Linked DNA regions of Homo sapiens. The protein of the gene in region 3 interacts with the protein of the main gene of each other region in a pairwise test. Each region holds a gene or a part of one and is shown on either strand. Other genes may lie near its edges.

Evidence for each region.
Region 1: the proteins of GPR37 (region 3) and FAM76B interact in binary tests that used the Homo sapiens proteins (3 or more experiments, as listed by UniProt).
Region 2: the proteins of GPR37 (region 3) and ADORA2A interact in binary tests that used the Homo sapiens proteins (3 or more experiments, as listed by UniProt).

What each region holds. Positions count from the first base shown.
Region 1 is NC_000011.10:95,769,052-95,772,802, reverse strand, and holds part of FAM76B (protein FAM76B), read left to right. Parts: intron 1-1,152; coding exon 1,153-1,242; 3' UTR 1,243-3,751. UniProt on the Homo sapiens protein: Negatively regulates the NF-kappa-B-mediated inflammatory pathway by preventing the translocation of HNRNPA2B1 from the nucleus to the cytoplasm.
Region 2 is NC_000022.11:24,430,571-24,434,321, reverse strand, and holds part of ADORA2A (adenosine receptor A2a), read right to left. Parts: intron 3,426-3,751; exon of another isoform or gene 2,760-3,425; intron 2,075-2,759; exon of another isoform or gene 1,888-2,074; intron 1,702-1,887; exon of another isoform or gene 1,596-1,701; intron 1,192-1,595; 5' UTR 918-1,191; coding exon 586-917; intron 1-585. UniProt on the Homo sapiens protein: Receptor for adenosine. The activity of this receptor is mediated by G proteins which activate adenylyl cyclase.
Region 3 is NC_000007.14:124,759,079-124,762,829, reverse strand, and holds part of GPR37 (prosaposin receptor GPR37 precursor), read left to right. Parts: intron 1-3,751.

The DNA.
Region 1 (3,751 bases), on a different chromosome or scaffold from region 3:
GAAGAATAAAGTTTGAAAAAGGTTATTTCATGAAACCACTTTAAGATGGCATACAGAGAAGGCAGAGTGTTATCTGCCCGTAAAAAGCTAAAATTAGAATAAAATATGAAGTACTGAGATTAAAAAAGTCTGTCTATATAATAAAAATTCCTGGAACCTGTGAAGGAAAATGGTGTTGAAACATAAGTCAGAGGATATCTTTTTAAAATGTGTTAATTTTAGGGCAGTGCTCTATTTTCATCACTTTCCCCATTTTGGCTCAAACTACAAAAATGCTTGATCATTAATGTATTTGTATATATAGGGATCCTTACTATCTAAGTTTTCATATTTAAGAGACTGAATAAGGTGACAAAGGCAGTCAAAATGTGAAAATATTCACTGTACTTACACATTCCTCTTCACTAAACTAGTGATGGATGGACATTTAATAATGAAATTCAAGTCAGATGATGAAATGAAATTTTGAATCTTTGTAAAAATTCAAGCTTTCATGAGATAGGAAATGATGATGTGGAACTGCTCAAACCACACTAAAATCAGTGTCAGATGACTGGTAACTAAAGGAACAACAAGATAATGAGTGGTTCTGATGGGTGCTTTAAAAAAAATTGAATATCATTGGGTGCATTTGGCAAAGTAACAAATTCTGAGTTGTTTTTGCAAAAATGACCTCTTATGCTTGTTCTACAAGAGAGTAAACATAGAAAAAAGACCTTATACAGCTTGCCAGGAAATACTCCTCCCAAATCTTGATTCATTCTTTGATTTTATTAATTGTAAATTACAACTTATTTTCATAGTTTTCATGTTTTTAAGATGAAGGGCCAAACACCTTTTCCCTATTAAAATTTGGACCTTCTTTTAAGTGGATTCACTTTGTTTCCTTTTTTGTAACCAATTGTGCATCTTTGGACACAATTATATTAATAATGACATATACAAAGGGGGCTGATGAGCCAATCTAGAATTTTCCTTCTGCATGTTCATCCTTAAAGAGATGAATGTAAAGGTATCAACTCTTTCATTTAATGTTAGTGCTTTAGTGAAACATTTATATAAATGAAAACAGTATTAAATAAGTAGTATTCTTCAGCATGACTTAATAATATTTCAAACATTTTTAATCTTGAATGTTTTTGTCTCCCACAGGCCAAAAACAGAGAACTACTCAAACAGGTCGCAGCATTATCAAAGGGTAAAAAATTTGACAAAAGTGGAAGCATACTAACATCTCCTTGAGAAAGTCATTTGTTTAGCATTTCTTCTTACAATGTAAATTTGGGGAAAAAAAATTCTGTGAAGCCCTTAAATTCTGTGTAGTAGAAAAATATTTTTGCACACCAAATGAATTGGTGTGTTTCCTGTTCACTTTTGTAATTGATATACAGCATTTTTTAAGTTGTAAAACATTCAAATAAAACTTCAACTGGTTTGAAGTAACTTTTTAATTATTTGATATCCAGGAACTTTTTTGCCAGCAATAGTATTAAACAGTTGTAAAGGAGTGCATGAGTAGTGCTCTTTATGAAACGCAACATGCAATAATAGAGTAGGTATGGTTTCAGAAGTCAGAGCAGCAGGGTTTTTTTGTTTTGTTTTTGTTTTACACTATGCTAATTTCAGACAAACAGTTTTCAATTTAGAAATACAAAAACTTTTAAACTCGAAAAATGGCGAACACTGGTTTTTTGGGAATTGTGTTTTTACTTTGCATCAAGATGAATTTAGGAGAAAATCACGGTGCTTTTATTAAATGAACTTCAGATATATGTAAATTTGTTTTTTAAAGTTACATCATTAACATTAGTAACCTAGCATTTTCATTATTGGTATAGGAATTAATGTTTATTGTACAGTATCTAAGGTAAAATGTGTTTCTGTTTTGTAAAAACTACTGTAGATTTTTACTTACAAGTGCCTTTTTGCCACCTAATGTTTTTATTTATAGGAATGCTGATCTTTTGTACATACATTTTGTTTTAAAATCATGTTTAATAAATGTTTGTATATAAATGCATATGTACAGAAGCCTATTTCAAAAGGAAATCAAAGTTGCTAGTAAAATGTTTGAGATTACATTTAGAACTAACTGATAATGCATATAGATTGTAGAAAATTTTGTGATTTGTTTCTGTGTGATAAGGGAAGCTGTTGGTCTTTGAATTCATTTAATTATGTCAAAATAGTTCCCCAAAGATTTAATTTTAAGTTGCTTCTTAAAGAGTAATTTTATTTTTTATGTCATGTGGCTTCATATTAGTATTGTGTGAGTTACATGTTTTGCTTTATATTTTATAAAATTTTTTAAAAATTTTAATGTTTCTGCAATGATCCATGTATCTGCTTTCCCTATGTGTGGTTATCTAAGTTAATATTTATGTACAATGTAATTTGTAAATTTAAAGCAAATCTGAAAAAAATTAAATGATCTTTTTAATCCAATCTGTGATAATCTTTGAATAAATTGGAATCTACTATAAGATTCAGGCATTATAAGTAAATTGTCCTAAAGTCTTTAAAATTGTCTATAAAAGGTTAAGGTAGGGTGGGATAGGTTATATGAAGTTATTGACTATATTCTGATCCAGCGGTTTTCAGCCTGAAATAGAATTTATCTCCTAGTTATTATCAGTTCAGAGTTTTAGTTTGATTTTAAAGTATTGCTAGATACACTGTATAGAGTGAGTTGCTTCTCTTAATAATTTATGGGCAAAGATAAATTTGCTTCATGTAAAACTGTTACTAAATTTATAAGTTTTAAAGGTTTTGTTTTATACAAGCATTGATTGTGAATGTCATATCAAAGATTGGCTTTCTTAAGAACACATGATTGAAACAATTTTTTTTTAACATGACGTGTTTCAATAGACTGTTCTCATAGTTCATTATAAAGTGAATACCAAATAATTCTTTGTCCATTTTGAAAGCATAATATAGGGTAATTTTCAAGTGATACAAAAAGATTCAGTTAGAATCTTGTAAACTAAACCAGTTTATTTTTATGGGATCTTCATGTAATAATTTTCTTAAATTTAGTACTCTCAACCATGATAGATAATGCCTTAACATGGATTTTAACGTTTGCAGGATTTGCTAAATTCATAAGATAGTTATTACCTTTCTTTGAAATTTGTAATGTTTTATATTCTTGTTTCATAGCCATTTGTCAGTCCACAGTGGTCATTATGGTTTTACTTTTTGATAGTTCTTACACCTTGTTGGAGAAACTACAAAAGAAAGTTGTCCTCGTCCTTCCCCTTAGCTAACATCAAAATTAAAAAGTTGAATATTAATATTAGCTAACATTAAAATGGAAGGTAATTCAGTTTTAGTGTTAGCTAACATTAACAGTCTAATAATTTAGCTTTGTAAATTCCAAGGCTAAAACCCTTTCATGGGCTTCACAGTATTTAGTCCTAATTAAATACCCTTCTTTATTCCATGACCTTATTTTATAACTTAAATTTTTTTGCAATTGTATAAATTAGTAATTCAGTCCCAGTCCTGGATCTCTGTAGTGTTTTGACATAATAAACTGATATTCTTTAAATGTGGACCTGTAAGGAGATACTATGGTGTGGTGTATTGTGCTTTTAGCCTGTTTTCCACTATTAATTAGCATTTACCAGTAAGGGTCATTTTGACTCAAGTTATTTATGTATTAATAGCCTGTGAATATTGCAGTCCTTTTTAGATTATATTGGTCTAAATATGCATTCTGCAGTGAACCTGTTAAGCTGTTCACATG
Region 2 (3,751 bases), on a different chromosome or scaffold from region 3:
GAATTTGCATATAGGTCCAAGTGACTCACTGTGGCATTCAACCAAGTCACTTCCCCTCTCTGGGTCATTTTCCTAATGTGCACACTGCAAGGCTGGCCCAGAGGATCTGGGGGAAGGCAGGTGGCGGGCGGCTCCTAACTCTGAGGTCCTATGGTTTCCCCTGGCTCCCCACTCCACCCCAGCATCATCCGGGAAGTTTTGCTTGTGTGTGAGGAATGGCCCAGACACACCCGCTGGCAGCACGTGGGTCACTGGGACCACAGCTCCCTGCTAAGCCCAATGCCAGACCCTGGCCACACTCATCTGCCAAAAAGCAGAGCACAGTTGGCCTCAGGCAGCCTAGGGGAACCCAGGCCGCCTGGGAGGGCCAGGCTGCCCTGCGCCCATAGGGGTCAGTCAGTTCGGCATGACTGCTGGCCACGTGCTGGCCCTGGGGAGCCCCTGCTGAGCCTGGGGCCCCGTCGCCAGCTCACCATGCTGACACTGCAGACCAGGCCCTGATCCCAGGCTCACCCTGGCTCCGGGCACAGACCAAAGCCTGGGCACCAACAGCCTTTGCACAGATGTAACCCCGGCCCTGCTCACCGGAGCGGGATGCGGATGGCAATGTAGCGGTCAATGGCGATGGCCAGGAGACTGAAGATGGAGCTCTGCGTGAGGACCAGGACGAAGCAGGCAATGAAGAGGCAGCCGTGGCAGGCAGCGCAGAACCCGGTGCTGATGGTGATGGCAAAGGGGATGGCGAGCACACCCACTGCGATGTCGGCCGCCGCCAGTGACACCACAAAGTAGTTGGTGACGTTCTGCAGGTTGCTGTTGAGCCACACGGCCCAGCACACCAGCACATTGCCCAGGATGGCCAGCACAGCAATGGCCAGCTCCACCGTGATGTACACCGAGGAGCCCATGATGGGCATGGCCACAGACGACAGGCAGGCTCAGCACGGACGCGGGCTGGGCCAGCTCACGGTCCATTGCTGCAGCCCAGCCGCCCGCCTGGCTCCCAGCCCGGCCCAGGCGGAGGGGCCCAGACCCCTGAGCCCCTTCCTCACAGGAGCCAAGTGCAGCCCTGCTGGGGCGCTCTCCAAGGGCTTTTTCACAGAGGACTCTGAGTCTCCTGAAACCAGGCCCTCTGCAGGGGTTCTGGCAGCAGCATCATGGCTCAGCCCAGCTTCAGGGTTCCTGAGGCACCTGCAAAGGGACAGCCGATGAGAAGCTGAACCATCTGCAGAGGGCGAGCCCTGCGGAAAGTGCCACCCCTTACCCCACACTTGGCCCCCTGAAGACCCTATAGTTTCAGATCCCACCCTACCCACAGGCCAGGTGTCAGCCTGAGGATGGCCCCTGACCCCGCCTAGCCCCATGCCCTGCCTGGTCTGCTGTGGTCATAGCCAGGAGGCGAGAGAGGTGGGAATTTGACCCTCACTTTAGAGGAGGACACCCAGAGAAGTCACTGAGCAAGGCTGGTTCCCCTGGTCCAATAGAATTCCCGCTGAGACTCCCACACAAACCCCTCCCAAGGAGGCAGCCCCTTCTCCCAGGCTCTGCAGAATGAGTACTGCCCTAGCTGGGCCCCTGCCAGGACTCCAGCTCACCCCAGCACTATCCATGGCTCCCTGCATTCCCTGCTCTGCGCATTGTTGTCACGGTGCCTCCCACTCTGGACTCAGGGCCAAGGATCAGATGTGGTCTGTTTTTTTCCTGGGGGAGCCAGAAACTTGTTAAAGTCTGTCAGTGTTGGCCCCCCCATGCTCAGCCTCTCAGGCCTCCTGTGGCAGCTTGGCCAGTCTCCTGGGTCCTGGATCTCGGCCAGCCCCATGACACTCCCTCCCAGAAAGGCCCCTCCCTGCCCAGGCTCTCCCAGTCCCACCCACCTTCTCTCGCCAGGCCAACTTCTCAGCCCCCCTGGCCTGCTCCATCCCGTCAACTCTCCCAGGAACTACCAGCACCCACCTAAGGGACACCAGCCGCCCTGTGAAAGGACAAGCCAGAGACCCCTGGAGCTCGGATGTGGAAGGATGTGGGGAGCTGCCTGGTCCTGTCTCCCACTGCCGCAGAGGGTAAGCCCTCTCATACTGCGCCCGAACCCGCTGCCTCCAGGTGCCCCTGCCAGTCAGCTGCAGTCAGGGCAGGGGCGGCGCTGCAGCTGACTGTGAGCTTCCACTCGGAGGGAGCTGCCTCACCTCCCTCCTCCCACGCCCTCTCCCCCACCTGCTCCTCTGCCTGGCTGACACCAGGAATGACTAACGGGAGTTTGGTCCCTGGCAGAAAGCAGGTACGGAACCAGGACTCACTGAGGGACTCTGGGCAAAAATGCTTTTCTTTTCTGGGCCTCAGTTTCCTCATTGATACGGTGAGGCAGCTGGACCCCAAATGACCTCTAGGGGCCATGCCAGCTCTCACCCATGATTCTATGAGAAGGAAATAAACAGATTTAAAATGGCTCCCCCAGAGTCAAAATGGAATTACTGACACCCCTCAGAAGCAGAAGTTTTGGTTCCCCAGCAGGCCTGAGCCCAGCCCCAACTCCCAGTGTCCCCTTCGAGCCTGTGAATGGTCTGGATCCAAATGGACCTCTGCCCGTTAAATTGCCCCTCTTTGAGAGCTAAGAGGCCCCCAAATCTACCCCCTCCAATCCTGAACCCTCATGGGGCCCTATGAGTGTGTTGCCAGCCGCCACCACCTGCCTGGGGACAAGAGGTCAGAGGCTGCCTTTCACGTGGACTCGGGCAGCCACCTCGTCTCTCTCTCTCTTCCAGGACATGAGGGATGGAGCAGGACTGGCAACCTGGAGAGGAAGTCACTCCTGGTCCTGAGCCCTGTTCAAAGGGCCAGGCTCCCCTCTACCCCATTGTCCATGTGACAGAGCTCAAACACACAGACCCCAACTTTCCCTCCAACTCCAATGCTGTCGGCACCTCAAGTGGCTGGAACAGGATTGGCACGGGCTGCAGCCATACCTGGGACTGGAGGTTCTCCTGCACCCAGCAGGCCCTTTTGCCCCTACTAGGAGCCTGGGAATGGAGCATTGACACAGAAGCAGGAGGAGGAAGGAGAGAGCAGAGCCAGAAACCCTGCAGCAACGGAGGGCCTGCAGCAGCTGGAGAGGGCCGAGTCCTCCCAAGCCCCTGCTTTCCATGGAGCACTTGCCAGGCAGCCATTCACAAAGTGTGTCGTTGGCAGGGATGCACCAGACCAGCTCTCCTGGCACCATCCCTGGCCACACTCAAGGAACACAGTTATCCCTGATGCTCTTGGCCTCTCTCCCTGAGCAGTACTCACCAGGGCCCACCTGACTCACGATAGCCCCTGCCCAACAGGTACAAGTGGAGCTGGTGCTGGCCCCGGGCTGCCTCCCACCCAGGTGCCTGGCCTGTGGCTCCAAGGTGGACTCCCAGGCCCAGCACCACCAGCAGCAGCAACAGGCGACTGTCCAGTGAGGCCCAGTGGGCCACTGAGGAGCCGCCTCTACCCAGGGATCCTGCCTCCCACCACGGCCCTCTCTAGGGCATCTGCATTGAAGGATGCCACAGCCTTCTGCCAATCTGACCATCCCAGGCTAGAAGGCTGATGCAGCCCCAGACCACGCTCCAGATTCAAGGGCCTTGCTGGGGGCAAACAAGGTGGAACATAACACGTCTGCCAAAGTGAAGGAGGACTCCCCAGTCCCATCACCCAGAGCCCTGCTGGTGGGGTCAAATCATCGGCGCCTGCCTCACGGGCTGGACTGGTGCCATGCCAGCTGGGATGC
Region 3 (3,751 bases):
TCAACATTGTTCCAGGCCTAAAGCTGGGGGATAAGTAAACAGAAAACAGTACCTACTTAGACGGACCAAAGCTGGAGACAGTAAATAAGACCCTCTGTTATCTTGACAGGGATCAGGTGCAGGATCATTCCATGACTATGAAATCAGCTGTTGCTGCTTTAGCAGCGTCCATGATTTCTCCTGTTGCCAAGCTTGGCGTATCTCTGAAACATCTACTTTGTTTGGTAGACAATTCATTTTTGAATTGTGAAGGAGCCAGTTGAACTCATGTTAGAGAATATGTGTCTATTTACCAAACTGCCTCTTCAAGGTCAGTTTCAAATTTCTTTTTTTCTTTTTTTTTTTTTATCAGAAGAAATTGACTTATGCAAGAAAGAGACAAAAGTATAAAGCGGACAAGAGAGGTACCTCAATGACAGAGAAGTGTATTGGCTTATCTCACTGGAAATGTACTGGACATGTAGAAATCTGTATACACTAGAGGGAAAAACAATAGGACAGAAAAAGGAAATTGGGGAAAGAAAAATAAAAACACCAAAGTTCTTGAAAGAACACCTTAAAAGAAAAGAATATCAAATTCAGGAAAGATTATAAAAACTTTGGTTAATTTAATGAGATATAAGCATTTTGAGCAATGGCATTTATTATGTACTTATTTTAATTTTCTTTTTCCGTAATTCTGAGTTTGTACAAATGTAATACTTTCTTTCATTTGTATTTCACTTTTTAATTTAATCAGCTCCTCCTTAAGAGTGCTTTGTTTTTTGCCTCTTATTATTAGTAAAATCTTTTACTTTCTGTATTTTTGCTTAACTTTTCCCCATCCTAGTAGCTTTCTCTATTTTTCAGTTATTAGTGCTAGCATTTATTTTTCTTAGAGAATCAAAGGCTTAAAAAATTCACTCATTTATTTTTTAAAATTACAGTATAATATACATTTTTACTGTTAAAATAGTGAATGAACATCTTAATATGTAGCATTTCTATATTTCTACCTAATCCTTATTACTCTGAAATAATTTTAGAATGGTTTATAAAAATAATTATTGGACAATATTGCTGGCTTCATAATTCCTGATTACTGAGAACAAGAACTACAGTCCAAATCTCAAAATAAAAGTGTGTCTCCAGGAGGCACTGATGTTTTCACAAAAGTAAGAGGTATTTAGGGTTTCTCCTACGTTGGGTTCCTGCAAAAACAGGCCCTGAGATGTAGATTTATTGGGGCATCAAGTTTATTGGGTTGTGCTCTCAGGTTCAACCTATTAAGGAAAGAAGAAAGCAGGATTGGGCGGGCAAAGGGAGAAGTTGAACTGTGATGCAATTGCCACAGAGACCTCAGCTGACACCATTAGGAGCTTTAGGGCTGGGATGGCCATGCAGCCATATCCCAAATTGAGGCAAGAGGGCTCAGCCTTTACATCTCTTTATGGACCAGTCATTAGATGTAAGACATTGGATGCAAGCCTGCTCCCAGGATGGGGTATAACCTTGAGTTGGGTGGATCTCTTTGGTCAAGGGCAATTCCTAGAGAGGGATGCAGCTAAGCACTGTCAACCAATAGCCCCAGCAGCTGGAGGAATCAGTGCTTCATTCTTGAAGGACTTTGGAGGGAGCTGTCTGGGTGGAAAACCACAGCATCCACTACAGTAGCTTTTTTTTTTTTTTTTTTTTTGAGACGGAGTCTTGCTCTGTCACCAGGCTGGAGTGCAGTGGCACGATCTCAGCTCACTGCAACCTCTGCTTCAGGGGTTCAAGCTATTCTGCCTCAGCCTCCCAAGTAACTGGGACTACGGGTGCGTGTCACCACACCCGGCTAATTTTTTTTGTATTTTTAGTAGAGATGGGCTTTCACCATGTTGGCCAGGATGGTCTTGATCTCCTGACCTTGTGATCTGCCCACCTCTGCGTCCCAAAGTTCTGGGATTACAGGCGTGAGCCACCACGCCCAGCTTACAGTAGCTTTTGAACAATCATGTTAAATCAGACATAGATAATGTTCTAATCCAACTCCCTCATTTTAAAGATGAAATTTGAAGCTCAGAGACTATCCTAAACATATATACCTGGTCAGTAGCCACCAGACCCTTGGTCTCAATGCTTCATGTTTATATTTGCTGATTAGACCAACCTGTATGAAGCACAAGCTTTATCCAGTGAGTGTTTTCTTTTCCTTTCCGCTCCTTGGCATCTGAAAAATTTTTTCTTTTTTTAATCCACTAGACAGGAAAAAATAAAAACCCGTAAACATCATTTGTTATATAATGAAATGTATAGCTTCTTTTGTTTCTCATAAACTGTCAGTAAGTTCTGCAATTGGTAGTTAATTAAAATTTTTTAAATTGCAGTAATCTGAGACAACTATACTTTTTAATTTGCCTAGCATGATGACTTTAATGACCAAAAAGTTATATAGGTTAAATTTTATGTTCTTAAAATCATGAAGTATGTTAGATTGGTGAAGGACATTACAAGTACATTACATTTGTTCAAACTTTCTCCAAATCCCCTTCCAAAATTTTGCCTCTGACCTCAAGACTTTTAAAAATTTTTTGACATCTTGTCTACTTTCATATTTCTAAATTTTGCCATTCCTTCACTTGTTACTTTCTTATTTTATTTCTTGGCTATTTTTCCTTTCTTTAACTATGTATAATACCTTCTTATAGATTTATGATGTAGCATTCACCATTTTCCAGTAAGATGTTTAACCTTTTTCAGTGTTTTTATTTTTAATTTTTTCGTAGTTAATTTTAAATTTTATTCTCAATAGATTATGATTGAATTTTATAATTTTTCTCTCCCAGCTTCTCTTTTGCTTTATTTTTCTTTTCTACCACAGTTCTTTCTCCTGTACAGCTTGAGCGTTAGCATAATCTGAAGGGAATCGTGGGATTTTGGGGAAGATTTGGGTTTGTGTAGAAAAATATGAGGTACTTCTTGAGTAAAAACTATACTTTTTCTAATTTTCATTCAACTCCTCTTTCTATTTTAATTTGTTGGCCTAAAGCTTGAGGATAGCACCCAGCTTCCAAGGTCTATTGTGAGAAAGGAAGTTTTATGATGTTTAATATTGCCGTGAGTGAGAATGTTCTGGGAACTGTTGTAGTTGATGACTTTTCCCTTTCTATTCCAGGATTATGACATCTTTATGGCCTAATAATAAATCTCATAAAGTCGAAGGACAAATGAAATGGTAGGAAATGCCAGATAGGAGAGAAGAAAATTTGGATAGATCATGGCCGTCCTCCTAGACACATCAGTTTAAAGTGGTTTATTACTTAGCCACAAGAAAAAAACTATACTCAAAACAAAACTTGTATATGTAGTGTGCTTTTATGTGTATTAGGGGAGGTGGAGATATGTGTGGGTGTGGATTGCAATAGGAGAATGGCAGAGGAGTTCTCTACCATACCTACCATTCACTTAGGAATCTAACAAGTGTTTAAAACCAAATAATTTGGGCCAGGTGTGGTGGCACACCCCTGTAATCTCAGCACTTTGGGAGGCCTATGCAGGCAGATTGCTTAAGCCCAGGAGTTCAAGATCAGCCTGGCCAACAGGGCGAAACTCCATCTTTACAAAAAATACAAAAATTAACGGGATGTGGTGGTGCATGCCTGTAGTCCCAACCATTCAGGAGGCTGGGGTAGGAGGATTTCTGGAGCCTTGGAGGTTGAAGCTGCAGTGATCCATGATCATGCCACTGCATTCCAGCCTAGGTGACAGAGTGGGACCCTGTCTCAAAAAA